Regions from separate parts of the Homo sapiens genome. Here region 2 is linked to region 1. The links come from fine-mapping of genetic effects on gene expression. A gene starts in region 1. The other region holds a variant in brackets. All regions are shown on one strand. Distances are between the middles of the regions.

Region 1 (8,000 bases):
TAACAAAAGCCTGTTCTCTGCCCTCACTCTTCCTCCCACTGCTATGCCCCAAAGAAAAGCTTTTTTAAAAGTTGTGGAAAAATAGACATAAATAAAATATATCATTTTAGCCATTTTTAAGGTTATGGTTCAGTGGCATTAAGTATATTCACATTGGTATACAACCATTACCACCATTCATCTCCAAAAACCTTTCACCTTCCTAAACTGAAACTCTATACCCATTAAACAAATAATAACTCCCCATTCCCCCACCACACCCCCAACCCCTGGCAACCACCATTCCACTTTGTCTCTAAGAATTTGACTACTCTAGGTGTCGCATATGAATGGAATCATACAGTATTTATTCTTTTGTGTTTGGCTTATTTCACTTAGCACAATGTGTTCAAAGTTCATGTGGACTGTAGCATGTGTGGGAATTTCCTTCCTTTTTTGAAAGCTGAATAGTATTCCATTGTATGGATCTACTGCATTTGTTTATCCATTCAATCATTGATGAATATTTGGGTTGTGTCTGTCTTTTGGCTATTGGGAACAATTCTGTTGTGAACATTGGTACACAAATGTTTGTTGGAGTCCCGACTTTCAATTATTTTGGGTATATACCCAGAAGTAGAATTGCTGGATCATATAACTCATTTTTAATTTTTTGAGGAAGCACCATACCATCCACTGTGGTGGCCCCATTTTACATTCCCACCACCCAATGCACACGTGTCCAGTCTCTCCACAACCCCACCAATACTTGTTATTTTCTGTTTTTTTGCGGGTGTTCTTTTTTTTTTTTTGAGACAGGGTCTTGCTCTGTCACCCAGGCAGGAGTGCAGTGGTGTGATCTCAGCTCACCGCAGCCTCAAACTCTTGGGGTCAATATATACATACATACATACATATATATATTTATTTGGTGAAATATCTATTTAAGTCCAAAGAGAATCATTTGAACTATTGTAACGATTTCTGATTTATCTTCTTCTGCTACTTGCCTCTAAATGACATACTTATTTTGCCAGTTTTAGATTTTCTGTTTGATAAATGGGTACTTGCACCCCATCTCTCCTCCCTAAGTGCTGGTACTATAGTTTTATTATTATTTTTGTACATAATGACATACCCTTTTTTTTTATTTTATACTCTCCCCCACCCCTTCCCTCTCAACTACTATCAGATGTAACTTCCAAAGTTAGTGATACTTACATTTACATTCTATTCTGTAACTGTGACTAGGTCTTCTGTAGGTTGATGTTATGAAAGAAAAAAAATCAATAAATGGTGTTTACATTTTGAGCCTGCTTTTGAAGCACAGAAGCAAGACATGGGCAAAGGGGCGGGAATAAGGGCTTTCTCATGGTAGCCAATGGCATGAGCCAAATTACAGGGACCATAAATCATGCAAGTCACATGCAGCATAAAGGAGATGTGATGGCTCAGGCAGAAGGCCCCTTGGGGAGCAACGGGGAATTTAATTGGTTAAAGGGAAGGGAAGGGAAGCTGGAGAGCCTGGATGGCCCACTGCCCTGCTCCCCACTTCCTTATACTAGCCAAAGAATGCGGGTCAACGTGATTCCCCCACCATGACTCACGGACTTCCACCAGCCGTCTTGACTTTCTCCCAGCCCTCCTCCCCATCCACAGAACCAGTGCCTACCAGGGCTTTGCACAAATAAAACAATTCTCCCTCCTAAAAAAGGTTTGCAATTCCTACACAGAGGAAGGTCTTAGAGTGAAGACACAAGAGGAAGGAGAGGATGGAAAAAGAAACAATCACTGAAAACTGGCCGACTACCAGTTCTGTGCCACCTACTCAATTCTTACCCAGCCCTCTGCGTGAAGTTGGTATTATTATCCCCATTTGACAGATAACGAGGCTGGAGAGGCCCCGTGACTTGCCCAAAGCCACAAAGAGACTACTGGCAGAGCTTTGGCCTATGTTTAAGAAGCTGAACCTCTTTGGGATTCAGTTTCTTCATCCATAAAAACAAAGACACATTCCAAGCCATGCCTGTTCCTTGCAGGGTGTTTGTGAGGGTCAGAGAAAATGTCCTTGAAGAGCCTGGCATGTACAAGATACCCTGAAACTGATGGCTATGATGCCACGGCCTGTGCACCTAGGAAGAGTCAGGAAAGCCCAGTGTCTTGAAAAGCCGAGGCTGGAGCAAAGTTCAAGGAGGAACTCACTTCTCTCCCACTCTAGGACTGACCCTCAAACTAGCCAGAAGAGTGGAAGGACCTACAAGATCAGTACCCACCCCACACTTCATAGGCCAAGAGAGGGACAGTGGTTTACCCAGGGTCACCCAGCATGCTAGAGGCTAAGCCTGCCAGCCACGGCTGGGAACCCAGACTTGTGAATGCCCCAGCCCTCCACATTCCCTGGTCCGCTATCAAAGACAGTTAGTCTAATTAGGAAAGCACACCCTTGCAGGCCCAGCCTCCGGTGATCTCTTTGTTCCTCTGTCTCTTCCTGCCCCAACCCCACAGAAACTGAAGTGTGGGGACCCTCCCTAGGAACCGGGGTTCCAGGGAGGATTTGAGGTCACGCTCAAGATCATAAAGAGGCCCAGCATGGACTCCTTCTCATGACCCAAGTGGAGCCAGAGTTCCCAGATAAGGGCAAAGGTCACCTCAGGCCAGGCTCCACTCTCAGCCACCCCTTCTGCCTGGCAGGGTTTACTTCATCTCCTCCAGTCAGGAGAGGGGAGGTCACACTGCCAGGGCCTTTGCCCCATTCTTCTCCAGCTCCTTCTCTAGAGGAAGAGTCATGGCTAGGCCGAGGCAGTGTGGACCTGGAACAGGTATAAACTGTGCTACTCTTTGGTGCCCAGTGCCACTTTTCCTAGCCAGGACCAGAGCTATCACCTTCTCTGTCCCGCAGCTCTGCCCAGGTCTTAGTACCCCACTCACCCCTGGGCCTCAGGAACCCTAAGGAGGGGCATAGGGTTGCTTTCCATTCACACCTGGGGCAGCACAGGGAACTGTGCCACAGGCCCCAAGACAGGCAGATGGAGGATGAAATACACAGGTCCCAGTCCCTGAGGCCACCTTACGTGTCCGGCCCCCAACCCTGTGCAGAAGGTCAAGGCAGAGGCGCCGAGGAGGGATGGGAGGATGCCTCCTGTGAGATGGGGTACAACTGGTGTTCCTTCTGAAGCTGACATCTGGCCTCAGCTGGGACTCTGGCGCCAGCGGGCCCGCAGGGGGCTCACCCGCGACACCCTTTGTTCTGGCTGCCTCCCCAACCCCGCGGGGCCCTCTGCTCCAGCTGGCATGCCTCAAGGACGCTTCGCGCCTGCTCCTTTGGCCCCCGGCTCGCAAGTAGCGGGGCCAGCACGTGACCCGAGGGGGCAGGGGATGGATGGATCTTGACCTTGCCATCTGGCCCCTCACGGATGTGCTGCTGGCTCTCCCTCTAGGAAATCAACAAATTTTTGCGCTTCTAACATCCAGGCCCCTGAGGATGGTCGCGAGGAAGATCTGTTTCGGACTGCAGCTGGGGCCTTCGGATCCAGAGGAAACCAGGGCTATTCTTCGAGGGTGGGAGGGGGAGGGCCGCGGGGTCGGAGGGGAAGGTGGCCCCGCGCGAAGTCGCCGCCGCCGCGCCCCGCCCCGCCCCGCCGGCGGAGACCGAATCCGCCGCACCCCATAGGCAGAGGCCACCCTCCCCGCCTCCCCGCCCGCTGCGCGCCCGCCCCGCCCCGGCTCACTTTAAAAGTTTACTCGGGCCGGGACGCAGGGCAAAGCGAGCCATGGCTGTCTACGTCGGGATGCTGCGCCTGGGGAGGCTGTGCGCCGGGAGCTCGGGGGTGCTGGGGGCCCGGGCCGCCCTCTCTCGGAGTTGGCAGGAAGCCAGGTTGCAGGGTGTCCGCTTCCTCAGGTACTGGCCCCCCGCGGGAAGAGAGGGGGCGGGGCAGTTCCCCGGGAGAGGAACTTGGAGGTCCCGGCGAGCTTCGGAAGCCCCACCTCTGGACGAGTGCACTGGGGGGAAGGTACCCGCCCCTCCCCCGCCCCCCGCCAGCACCTAGGCAATAGGAAAAGCTGGCTTGGCCTGGTGGACTTGGGTGGGGAGGGGGCTTTGGTTGGTGGCTGCAGTGACTTCGAGTTCTGGTCCAAGACTCTCGATTCCTTCTCCTTTATGGGCACAGAGGGCAAGGAGTGTGGGCTTTAAGGAGAATATTCCGATGGGGAGGGGCAAGGGCCAAGGCCTGGGCTGTACCCCCAGGACACTGCCTCTGAGTTGGAACCCCTTCATGGGCAAACTTGGGGATCAGCCCCAGTCTCCCCGACCCAGGCCACTAAACTTAGCAGTCTCCTGTCTCCTCATCAGCTGCTCACTAACATGGCTTTAATTCTTTGCTGCCTACTCCTGGGCCTATTTCCTTCTGTCCTCAGTGCAAGGGGTGGGATGGAAGCTGGCAGGCAGAGGATTTCAGTTCCCAGTAGCTTCACTGCCTCTGCAGCAGCACAGTAAGTAAAGCTGCCTTCCCGGTGTGACCAGTCCTTGGGAGGACCCCGTGAGATGGCAAATGTGAAAGTGCTTGAGACACAGAGAGCAGGCTGCCACTCATGTTATCAGGGCTGTTAGCTTCAGCAGCACCACTGGGGAGCCCTGTGCACTACTGAGCCTGTCCTACCACTCAACTCGGCCAGATACTAAGTCTATGGTCAGGACAGCACTTTCAGCAACATCAGATGGGGTGTGGGCCTGGACATGGAAAAGGGAGAAGTCAGAACAAAGCTGTGTCTCAGAGAACTAGATTTGTTTTTGTTTTTAAAAAGGCTAAGTAGGAAGAGTTGGAGGGACATGCAGACTCCTTTTTGGCTAGAACTCCAAGATCACACTTTCTGAACTTGCTGATTTCTGAATGCTAGAAAGCATGCAATGCCTTAACATCACTCTGCCTAATTTGCTGAGAAAACTAAGTGGATCAAGGCTGGTCAGTAGATGGGATTGAGATGAGGACAGTGGGGTCCTCTTCCCAGTGACCCTGGGAAGTCACTCACTACTTCCCAGGGTCTCCCTAGACAAGTTCGGCCCTCCCCTGACCCCCTAGTCTCTTAAGCCTCTCCTCTGGACTCATGGCTGCCCCCTCAGGCTGGGAGGACTCTGAGGAAAGTTACTTCCCAAAGTGTACATATTTTATCACACTAAATCAGGCCACAGGGGAAGTCTCTCAGCCTACTCTGGCTCAGGAGGCTGCCCAATAGAAAACAAACAAACAAACCAATAAATAAGTAATAAATCAGGCCACATGGCAACATTTCTGACCTTTGACTTTTTTTTATCTATAAACAAAACAGGTCACTTACCTGCTACAGCCCTGGGACCTCTGAGAGCACCAAGCTTCAGAGAAATTCTTATTGCTGTGTCAGGAGGAGACTCATTTATCCAGACAGATGATTTTCTGAGTGTTTGGCCTACTTTCTTTCTGCCCCTTCCACTCCCTTGTGCCTGCACCCTTATTGTCTGACTGTGATGGTTTTACCTGATTTCTCTCCTACTTTCCCCTTCAGAAGCCTCAGGGCTCAGGCCAGGCAAGGTGGTTTATGCCTGTAATCTCAGCACTTTGGAAAGCAGAGGTGGTAGGATCACTTGAGCCCAGGAGTTCAAGGCTGCATTGAGCCGTCATCATGCCACTGCACTCTAGCCTGAGCAGCAGAGCAAAACCTAGACTCAAAAAATAAAAATAAAGGCTGGGTGGGTGGCTCATGCCTGTAATCCCAGCACTTTGGGAAGCCCAGGCAGGCAGATCACTTGAAGTCAGGAGACCGGTTTGGCCAACATGGTGAAACCCCGTTTCTACTAAAAATACAAAAATCAGCCGGGCGTGGTGGCATGTGCCTGTAATACCAGCTACTAGGGTGTCTGAGGCAGGAGAATTGCTCCAACCTGGGAGGCGGTGGTTGTAGTGAGCCAAGACTGCACCTCTGCACTCCAGCCTGGGTGACAGAGGGAGACTCCATGTCAAAAATAAATAAATAAAAATAAAGGCCAAGCATGGTGGCTTATGCCTGTAATCCCAGCACTTTGGGAGGCTGAGGTGGGCGGATCACTTGAGGTCAGGAGTTAGATCAGACTGGCCAACATGGAGAAACCCCATCTCTACTAAAAATATAAAATTAGCCTGGCGTGGTGGCACATGCCTGTAATCCCAGCTACTTGGGAGGCTGAGGCAGGAGAATTACTTGAACCTGGGAAGCGGAGGTTGCACTGAGCTGAGATTGCACCACTGCACTCCAGTCTGGGTGACAGAGAAAGACTTCATCTCAAAAAAATAAAAATAAAAATGAAAAAAGAAGCCTCAGGGCTGAAACCATCAGCAAACATTCCTGAGAACAGATTCTGCGTCATGCTAGCACATGCTGTGCATATAGAGGCCACAGAACTCAGTCCTCACCCTGCCAGGAACTTGCAGCCTCGTAGGAGGAGAAATAAATCAAGGTGAGCACTATTCGGTGTTGCAAGTGCCATGGTGAGGAATGCGCTTGGACTTTCGTCCTCTGTTTTCTCCGATCTGCTCACACACAGCCTGCTTTCCTGTTGCCCAACACCCAGGCCTATTACTTACCAGACCCTGGTTTTGCCTGAGAGAAAAGAGCAAGGGCTTTGAAGTTAGACTATCCTGGATGACAGCCCTGGGTCCTCTCCCTGTTGGTTGTATGACCTCGGGCATGTTATCTAACCTCTGAGCTAGTTAGTTCATTACTTACTACCTTCTTGCTGTGTTGTTGGGCTGATGAATAAAACAAGCTTGCTCTTGTTCTCAGCCTTTCCTTTGAGGCAGGGCTGATCCCTGGAAACCCTTGACTGGTGTCTGGGTGGGAATTCTGACTGATTTGAAAGTAGGAGAGGATCCCCTGATTGGTGGCCTCTTTCTGGAACCCAATTATTTCTCCTAGCTGATTGCCAAGATGGTGACTTCCACCCAGCTACATGTCCAGTCCTTGGGTCTGCTGGACGTCCTCCTCTCCGTTTGACGCAGGGCTGTTCAGAGTCTTTCTCTTTTTCTTTTTTTTTTATTTGAGGTGGAATTTCGCTCTTGTTGCCCCAGGCTGGAGTGCAATGGCATGATCTCAGGTCACTGTAACCTCCGCCTCCTGGGTTCAAGCAGTTCTCCTGCCTCAGCCTCCCAAGTAGCTGGGATTACCGGTGTGCGCCACCCGCCCAGCTAATTTTGTATTTTTAGTGGAGATGGGGTTTCACCATGTTGGTCAGACTAGTCTCAAACTCCTGAACTCAAGTAATCCACCTGCCTCAGCCTCCTAAAGTGCTGGGATTACAGGCGTGAGCCACCACGCCCGGCCCAGAGTCTTTCTCCCCAGAAGGAAAGAAAAAGCTGTCCTTTGCTCTCCAGAACTCCTCACGACCAACTCCTTCCCCCTATCTATGTGCCTCCTTCCCCAAAGAAGGTGGATGGCTTAGTCTGGGGCTTCAGTGAACCTCCAAGGAAGGAATTCAAGGAGAAACCTGGGCTGAGCAGGCTTCCCCCAGACCTGCCCTAAAGCTGGCCTGGGGCTGCCTATGAGGCAGCTGCATCCAGGGTGTTGAGAACACTCAGAGCTGGGAAGGCAGAGAGATCAGTGGCTAAAGCCTCTCAGAATTAGGTGTGGTGCTCAGAGCTGGGGATCCAGTGACTTGGTGCTGATGGTGGGGACAGAGGGGTAAGGGGGCTTTGTGGACCACCCTCCATGGGGATGGCTATGATCATATAAGACTGTGGACCTAAGGGAAAAATCTGAGGCCAAAGTAATATAAGTAGAGAGATTTATTTGGGCCATGTTTGCAGACTGCAACCGGGAGCATAGACTCAAGTTGCCCTGATTATATGATCTGATGAGCAGCAGTTACAAGTGGGTTTTTAAAAGAAAAGAAGGCTGGGTGCAGTGGCTCACACCTGTAATCCCGGCACTTTGGGAGGCCGAGGCAGGCAGATCACAAGGTCAGGAGTTCGAGACCAGCCTGGCCAATATGGTGAAACCCTGTCTCTACTAAAAATACA
Region 2 (8,692 bases), 29 kb after region 1:
GTTGCTGGACATTTGGTTTGTTTCCGCCTTTTGGGTATTGTGAATAGTGCTGCTGTAAACATTCATGTACGGGTTTTTGTTTGTTTTGTTTGAGACAGAGTTTCACTCTGTCACCCAGGCCTGTTGTGTAGTGGTGTAATGGTAGCTCGCTGTAGCCTCGACCTCTCAGGCTCAAGTGATCCTTCAGAGTAGCTAGGCCTCCGGAGTAGCTGGGACTACAGGTGTGCACCACCATGCCCAGCTAACTTTTAAATTTTTTTTGTAGAGATGGAATCTCACTATGTTGCCCAGACTAGTCTCAAACTCCTGGGCTCAAGCGATCCTCCCACCTTGGCTCAGAGAGTACTGGGCTTACAGGCATGAGCCACTGTGCCTGGCCCAAGTTTTTGTTTGAACACATGTTTTCAGTTCTTTTGGGCATATATTATAACTAGGAGTGGAATTGCTGGGTTATATGCTAATTCTATATTTAACTTTTTGAAGAGCCACCACACTGTTTTCCAAGCAGCTGAATCATTTTACATTCCCACTAGCAATATATAAGGATTACAGTGTCCTCACATGCTTGCCAACACTTGTTATTTTGTTTTTTTATTTTTTATTTTTTTGAGACAGAGTTTTGCTCTTGTCACCCAGGCTGGAGTGCAATGGCACAATGTTGGCTCATTGCAAACTCCACCTTTCAGGTTCAAGCGATTCTCCTGCCTCAGCCTCCCAAGTAGCTGGGATTACAGGCACCCATAACCACACCCGGCTAATTTTTGTATTTTTAGTAGAGACAAGGTTTCATCATATTGGCCAGGCTGACCTCGAACTCCTGACCTCTGGTGATCTGTTCGCCTTGGCCTCCCAAAGTGCTGGGATTATAGGCGTGAGCCACCGCGCCCAGCCCTTGATTTTATTTTATTTTTTTGCCTTCCAAGTGAGCATGATGTGGTACCTCATTGTGGTTTTAATTTGCGTTTCATCTGCTTGTTAGCCATTCATAGATTACCTTCAGCAAGATGTCTACTATTTTTTAATTGAGTCATTATGTGCATTATTTTTAATTCATTCATTTGGTCATTCATCTGAGCACCTCTTATGTTCCTGGCACTCAGACACTTGGGATAAAGCAGTGAACACATTAGTTGCCAACACTGGAAAGTCAAGAGAATTCTTAAAAAATAAAATTTCTTGCTCCTGACTTCTCTACTCAGATCTGGGCCTGAGTTCTCAGGAGCCAGCCCTCTGCTGGCACCTTTAAGGTGGGGCTGTGCTTTGTTTCTTCAAGGCTCCTATCTGGTCTCAGTCCCACCTGGGCCCTGAGAGCCTTGGGTTTTACAACACCCATGCTAAGTAGCTGATGCCTTTCCAAGTAGTTACTTTAGTTCTGAGTTGAGAACAACTGGCACTGCTGTTTTTCCTCTAACTCCTTAAGCTTCCCATGTCGCATTGAAAAAAAAAATTCCTAAAACCAAATCCCTTTAAGAATAGAAGTTGGGGCACCGTGGCTCATACCTGTAGTCCCAGCTACTTGGGAGGCTAAGATGGGAAGATCTCTTAAGCCTGAGAGCTTGAGGCTTCAGTGAGCAGTAATTGTGCCACTGCACTACAGCCTGGGTGACATAGTGAGTCTCAAAACAAAACGAAAAAATAGAAAAAGAAGTGTCGGGTCGAGGGGTGGGGCCGGGGGAGGGAGAGCATCAGGGTAAATAGCTAATGCATGCAGGGCTTAATACCTAGGTGACAGGTTGATAGGTGCAGCAAACCACCATGGCAAACGTTTACCTGTGTAACAAACCTGCACGTTCTACACGTGTATCCCAGAACTTAAAATAAAGTTAAAAAAAAGAAAGAAAGAAAGAAAAAGAAGTGGCCACCCTTTATGCCCCAGGCATTTGTGGTGTGGGCAAGGAAGGAGAATTGGTTTGTTTATGCTTCCTCTTTCGAAATGATGGGTGGGTCCTATGTTTATGAGCACATTGCATTGATATGAGTTTGTAGAACTCTTTTAATTCCTTGGAAGAGCCACCTGTTTCCAACTCAACCCTGCCCTACCCTGGTCCCAGTTTCTTGGGATCAGTTAGTAGAAATTGTGGAATAATAAAATTGAGGTTATATTATCTCTGATGATCAGATAGGAGATAAATTCCAAACCAGAAGGAACAGGAATCACCTATGCCCTCTCCTTTCTCCCAGATCTGAGGGTGGGGCATGGGCAGGCATGGCTGTAACGTTGAGGCAGTTGCACCGGGTCCTCTGCTCCTGGCTCGGGTGTTCATCCGCCACGTGATCCACTTGATCTCTTTGTACTTCAGCTTCTTTACCTGTGGAATGGGAGTTCATGATACTCACCTGCATTTTTTTAAACATTTTTTTAAAATTTGGGACGGAGTTTCACTCTGTGGGCCAGGCTGGAGTGCAGTGACACAATCTCGGCTCACTGCAACCTCTACCTCTTGGATTCAAGCTTCTCCTGCCTTGGCTTCCTGAGTAGCTGGGATTACAGGCACACACCACCACACCCAGCTAATTTTTTGTATTTTTAGTAGAGACGGGGTTGCACCATGTTGGCCAGGCTGGTCTCAAACTCCTGACCTCAGATGATCCACCCACCTCAGCCTCCCAAAATGTTGGGGTTACAGGCGTGAGCCACCGCGCTCGGCCTCACCTGCATTTTTCTAGGATTATATTAGTGTGTCTCAAAGAAACCCAAACTGAGAGTGACTGAAAGAAGATGGGGGCAAGGGAATGGTTGTGTGTCTTGACTATTATCAATATCAATATCCTGGCTATAATATTGTACTATAGTTTTGCAAGATGTTAACATTGGGAAAATTTGAATATTGATGCTGAAGAATGCATGAGCTATTTCTGTATTGTTTCTTTTTTGTAGTTTTTTGTGGTTGTTGTTTTGGGTTTGTGTGTGTGTGTGTGTGCTGTTGTTGTTGTTGTTGTTGTTGTTTCTGAGACAGGCTCTTGCTCTGTTGCCCAGGCTGGAGTGCAGTGGGTGTAATCAACCTTGAACTACTAGGCTCAAGAGATCTTCCTGCCTCAGCGTCCCAAGTAGCTAGGAGTACAGGTGCATGCTACTATGCCTAGCTAATTTAAAAAAAAAAAAATTGCCAGCCTGGGCAACATGGCAAAACCCCATCTCTACAAAACATACAAAAAAATAGCCAACCATGGGGTCATACACTTGTAGTCCCAGCTACACAGGAGGCTGAGGTGGGAGAATCACATGAGCCCGGGAGGTCCAGGCTGCAGTCAGTGAGCCATGACTACACCACTGCACTCAAGCCTGAGCGACAGAGTAAGACCGTCCCAAATTTTTTTTTTTTTTTTTTTTTTTTTAGAGACAGGGTCTTGCTCTGTCACCCAGGCTGGTCTCAAA[C/T]TCCTGGGCTTGAGCAATTCCCCTGCCTTGGCCTTCCAAAGTGCTGGGATTACAGGCATGAGCCACCGTACCTGGCCTGAATATCATTTCTTACATCTGCATATCAATCTACAAATATCCCAAAATAAATAATTTAATTTTCAAAAGCAAAAAAAAGAAAAAAGAAAGGAGATGGGAGTTTCTTTATCTGGGAGACAGCCAGTCTGTGACTGGTGTGGTAGCTCCTGCTGTCCAGGCGTCAGGCTCCTCTCTTGTTGCTCTGTGGTGCCCCAAATCACTATGTGGTCCAAAATGCTACCATTCTTTTCCCGTCACAAGCAGCATTCCAGCCTGAGGAAGAAAAAAAAGAGAAGATGTCCCTTCCTCTGAAAGTTTCTTCTCTGAAGTTGCACACACTATCTCTCTTTAAACCCCACTGGCCAGGACCTCACCATCTGGCCAGATCGGCTGCCGGGGAAGCTTGGAAACCTGGTCTTTATTCCACACAACGTGGCCAGCTAGATGTCTGAGGGTGTGTCATGAGAGAAGAAGGACCTATTGGGGTTTCTGTCACACCACCTGTCAGAGCCGCTGTGAAGACACAGGAGAAAACACATATGCCAATTGAACTGGATTTTTTTTTTTCCCCCATAAATCAGCCTGCCGATTTCCCAATTAGAATTTCCAGGAGACCACTGTTTGGTCTGAAAACCATGGTGAATAATGGAAAACCAAGTTCCAAACTAAATGGGACTCCTGGTCATTGTGAGAATAGGAGGATGCTTGTTGTGAGGCTGAACACCTGCCGTCCGGCTGGAGTGTGCAGTGGCACCATCTTGGCTCACTGCAACCTCCGCCTCCCGGATTCAAGAGATTTTCCTGCCTCAGCCTCCCGGGTAGCTGGGACTACAGGCGTGCACCACCACGCCTGTTTTATTTTTGTATTTTTAGTAGAGATGGGGTTTCACCATGTTGGCCTGGCTGGTCTCAAACTCCTGACCTCAGGTGATCCACCCACCTCGGCCTCCCAAAGTGCTGGGATTACAGGTGTGATTCATCATTCCTGGCCAGTTCCCAGACTTTATAGGTGGGGAAGGTGAGCTTTAGAAAGGAGAAATCCTGTGTCTTAATTTGAATTCTCCTGAGAACAAGGACTTGGGTGCAGGTAGTTTATTTTGGAGAGTGATCCTAGGAAGTGGGGATAGGAAGTAGAGAGAGTAAACAGGGAGTGGGGAAGCTGATGAGGGGATGTTATTAACATCATCACCCTAGGCAACAAGAGCTTCATTCACCTGGACCTCTGAGAAGGTACAGATACCTCCCAGAAAAGGGGAGACTTGGAGCTCCAGCCCCATGGGGTTGACTGCTGTCCCTGGAGGCATGAGCTCCTCTTCCAGGCTGGGCTGGCCTGCAGAACCAGGGACTCCCACATTGAGGAAGTTCCTGAGCAGGCAGCAGACTCCCAAGGAGCCACCCCAGCAGCTGTAGCTAAAACCAAGGGTGGGCGGAGGAGCTGTGACATAAGACACCCATCACCCACCCAGCCAGCAGCACACCTGCATTGAGACCTCGGGTCCTCGAGTCCCTGGCCTGGTGCATTCTCCCCGTGTCCCCCGAGCTTCAGAGCATCAGCAGTGTTCCTCCTTCACTGTGACGCTTGTCCTCACTTCCCAGGTGAGGAGTCTAAGAAAACAGCCTTTCCATCAGCCCCTGTCGTGACAGACCCTCCAGTGGGATGGTAGTGGCTGCCTCACCCATTTACAGGGCAACCCAGTTTTGCTCCTTCTGCCTTGAAATTTGTTCCTCCCAGAAACTGTCCCTCACAAGGCATGAACAATCAATAGAAGATATACGTGGTCTTCCCAGCACTACAGCTGCAGAATGAGCTGTGGAGTGCCCCGTCCGGAGTCCTGAACAGCTTCAAACTTTTCCCCTTTAGAAATGCCTGACACGCCCCAACCCCAGTAATCATCGTGCATTTAACTTAGGGGTTGCCTCACCCTTGGGAGATCCAAACCCCCAGGCTGACTTCCTGTCCTTCATGGAGGAGAAGGCTCTTGTCTGCAGTGTACTCCTCAGTTTCTACTCAGGGCCAGTGACCTGGAGCCTTGGCACAGAAACCCTGAAGAGAGAAGCTGAGGTAAATCCACTGCTTTGGCCAAGCAGACAGGTGACCTGCAAGAGATGGGAACAGCCTCATCCTTAACACTGCACCCTCTGATAAAAAGGTACCTGGTGGCCGGGCGCGGTGGCTCACACCTGTAATCCTAGCACTTTGGGAGGCCGAGGCGGGCGGATCACCTGAGGTCGGGAGTTTGAGACCAGCCTGACCAACATGGAGAAACTCTGTCTCTACTAAACATGCAAAATTAGCCGGGCGTGGTGGCGCATGCCTGTAATCCCAGGTACTCGGGAGGCTGAGGCAGGAGAATCGTTTGAACCCAGGAGGCGGAGGTTGTGGTGAGCCGAGATCACGCCATTGCACTCCAGCCTGACAACGAGAGCGAAACTCTGTCTTAAAAAAATAATGATAAAAATAAAATAAAATAAAAAAGGTGCCTGGTGGCCAGGTGCGGTGGCTCACACCTGTAATCCCAGGACTTTGGGATGCCAAGGTGGGAGAATCACTTGAGCCCAGGAGTTCGAGACCAGTTCTGGCAACATAGTAAGACTCCATCTCTACCAAAAAATAAAAATAAAAATTAGCTGGGTGTGGTGGCACACACCTGTAGTCCCAGCTACTTGGGAGGCTGAGATGGGAGGATTGCTTGAGTTTGGGAGGTCGAGGCTTCAGTGAGCCATGGTGGCACCACTGCACTCTAGCCCAGTTGACAGAGTGAGATCCTTTCTCAAAGACAAACAGACAAACAATAAAAAAAAAAATGAAAAAAAGACCTCTGGGAAGTCCAGGTGTCACACCCTATTCCTAGGACTGCGTGTCCTCACTGGCCTGCTCTAGGTGACAGTTTCTGAGCTCTTACTCAGACCTAGGTGGGAATGTGAACAGAGCAAATTCTGTTCCCATAGGAGAAGATGTGCTCTGGCTTCCAGACCTTCCAGGCCATCATTGGATATGGGCTAGGCAGTCCCTGGTGGAATCCAGGTAGAAGCTCCCAGGGCCCCCTAGGCTGAGGACCACACCATTGGTGGCCATCTCTGGCCAGGAGGGTGTGGAGGTTTGGAGGGACATGCAGCATCTTCCTTCATCACTAGTGGGATGGGAAGAGGACCAGTTTTCCACTCTAGACCTTGGCAGATCTCAGTAGACCCTGAGGGCCCACAGATTTCATAGACATATGGAATTGAATGAAATTACAAGGGGGAGAAGCAGGAGGAGCTGAGGTTGGTAGTTGAGATGTGAGGAGTGTGGGGAAAGAAACCCCACTTCTGTCCCATGTACCCCTAGGAGAGAGTAGGTTATCTTCTTTTGGTTCTCTTCTTTACCGAATAGCCTTAATCCGAGAGTTGAAATGATTTGTTTACATACATTTCTCTTCCTACCACACTATGGCTACTTAGAGGGCTGGGAGCAGTGTCTTATCCATCCCTGTATCCCTAGTACCTGGCACAGGGCTGGCACATAGTAGGTGCTCACTAAAGCTTGCTTGAATAGATGAGTCAAAGGCGGTTGGGGTGGCTTAGATGGCCAAGAGAGTGGTTGTCAAAGTGTGATTCATAGAATCCTCACCCAGTCCCACATCAGAATCACATGGGATTCTGTTAAAAATTCAGATTCTCCCGGTCCACTCCCCAGAAGCTCTGCAATGAGTAGGCATTGCAGGGGCCCAGGAATTTGCATTCTTTGTGAGATCCTGAGATGATTCCGAAGCAGCTCTCCATGGACCACATCTTGAAAAACTGTCACTTGGAGGAGGGAGTGACACTGGTTGAGAAGGTTCCTTCTGATGTCCCTGGAGGGACAAGGGAGGGATCAGCCCATAAACACAGATCCTGGTTCCAACATCCATCCATCCCTCTTCACTTCATAAATGATGTGGGTCCACTTGGGCCCATGGGTGGAGAAAACCCCAACCCCAGAACCTGGAGTTTGGGGGCTCTCCTCATTCTTCCAGGCCCAATGTCCTCTGCTCTGGACCCTTTGGTTTCAGCTGGGTTCAAGTTCCAGTCACCCTCCCGTTCTCACAGCACTCCCTTTCATTTTCCATGCCCCAGCCACAGAGACAAGCTCTCCTCTGCTGGAAAAGCCCTCCTCTCCCTTCTCTGATGATTAATACTTCCTCACCCTTCAGCTGTCAGCTTAGGCATAAATTTCTTAAGGGAGTTTTCCTTGGAGCCCCAGGTGATCCCAGATTCCGTCTTACAGGTGCTCCTAGGACCACGGCCCCTTCCTTATCTCAGCTTTCTAAACATACATTCATCATTACCAAGGTTGACTGCACTCCTGTCTTTCCCACCAGACCCTTATCTCTGCAAGGACAGGGACTGTATTTGGCTTTGTTCATTTTTTACCATTGGGCCCTCTCTGTGGTGGGTGTTTCCTAAATATTTGTTGGAGGAATAAATGTTGGCTAAGTACTCCGTAGGGCTGAGGAGGCCATAGTATGGGTGGCCCCAGGGCCCAGGTCTAAGAGAGGCTGCCTTAACCCAGCTTTGAGGGGACAGACAATGGGCCTCAGATGGGCTGGGATTCCCCCCACAGTCTGCCTCATGGCTCCCATTTCCTGATTTTCTAGGCTGTTCCCACCCACGAAGAGCTAATATGTCTAATTTCCCCAGAGACAGGGAGCTTCTTAGAAGAAGGACTGTGGCTTGTTCTATCTCTAGTCCTAGCATAGTACTTGGCACATACGGGTGCTCACTGAATGTGTGTCGAAAGCATGGTCGATAAATGCCATGAATGGATGGTAAAATGCCTGTCGACTACAGAGCACTTCACCATTCGCAAAGCACCTTTGCAGGCCTGTTCACGCTTGAACGTCATGGCCCTGCTATGGAATAGGCAAGGCAGTCTCTTCATCCCCTTCGAGCCAAAGAGTAAACAGATAACTTGCCAGGTCCCACTGGGTTTTATTGGTTTGTTGTTTGAGACAGGGCCTCTCTCTGTCACCCAGGCTCAAGTGCAGTGGTGCAACCATGACTCACTGCAACCTCTGCCTCCCAGGCTCGAGTGATCCTCCCCCTTCAACCTCCGGAGTAGCTGGGACTACAGGCATGCGCCACCATACCTGGTTAATTGTTTAAAATGTTTCATAGAGACAGGGTTTCCCTATATTGCCCAGGCTGATCTCGAACTCCTGGGCTCAAGCGATCCTCCTGCTGCAGCCTCCCAAAGTGCTGGCAAGACTTTACAGGTGTGAGCCACCATGCCTGGCTCAG

Direction of the effects. Positions count from the first base shown, and alleles are read on the strand shown. Sizes are in standard deviations (SD) of each study's normalised expression.
With allele C in place of T in region 2, the expression in whole blood of the gene that starts at base 3,706 in region 1 is higher (moderate effect, 0.66 SD a copy in TwinsUK).

Evidence for each region. PIP is the estimated chance that this variant, and not a neighbour inherited with it, causes the effect. A credible set is the group of variants that fine-mapping cannot tell apart.
Region 2: its variant is the best candidate, but not a certain one, in a credible set for the expression of ACSF2 in whole blood (TwinsUK, PIP 0.56).

Annotation. Positions count from the first base shown.
Region 1 is chr17:50,422,513-50,430,512 of GRCh38, forward strand. It overlaps ACSF2 (acyl-CoA synthetase family member 2), which reads left to right and starts at 3,706. Exons shown (of 16, transcript NM_025149.6): 1 at 3,706-3,877. The coding sequence starts at 3,750. RefSeq lists an enhancer at 3,238-3,782 and a silencer at 3,519-3,838.
Region 2 is chr17:50,450,859-50,459,550 of GRCh38, forward strand. The region is part of intron 1 of ACSF2 (acyl-CoA synthetase family member 2); the gene reads left to right. Among named protein-coding and RNA genes, the nearest start is that of CHAD, 14 kb to the right of the region's middle. The variant C/T (reference allele first, on the strand shown) is at 3,377.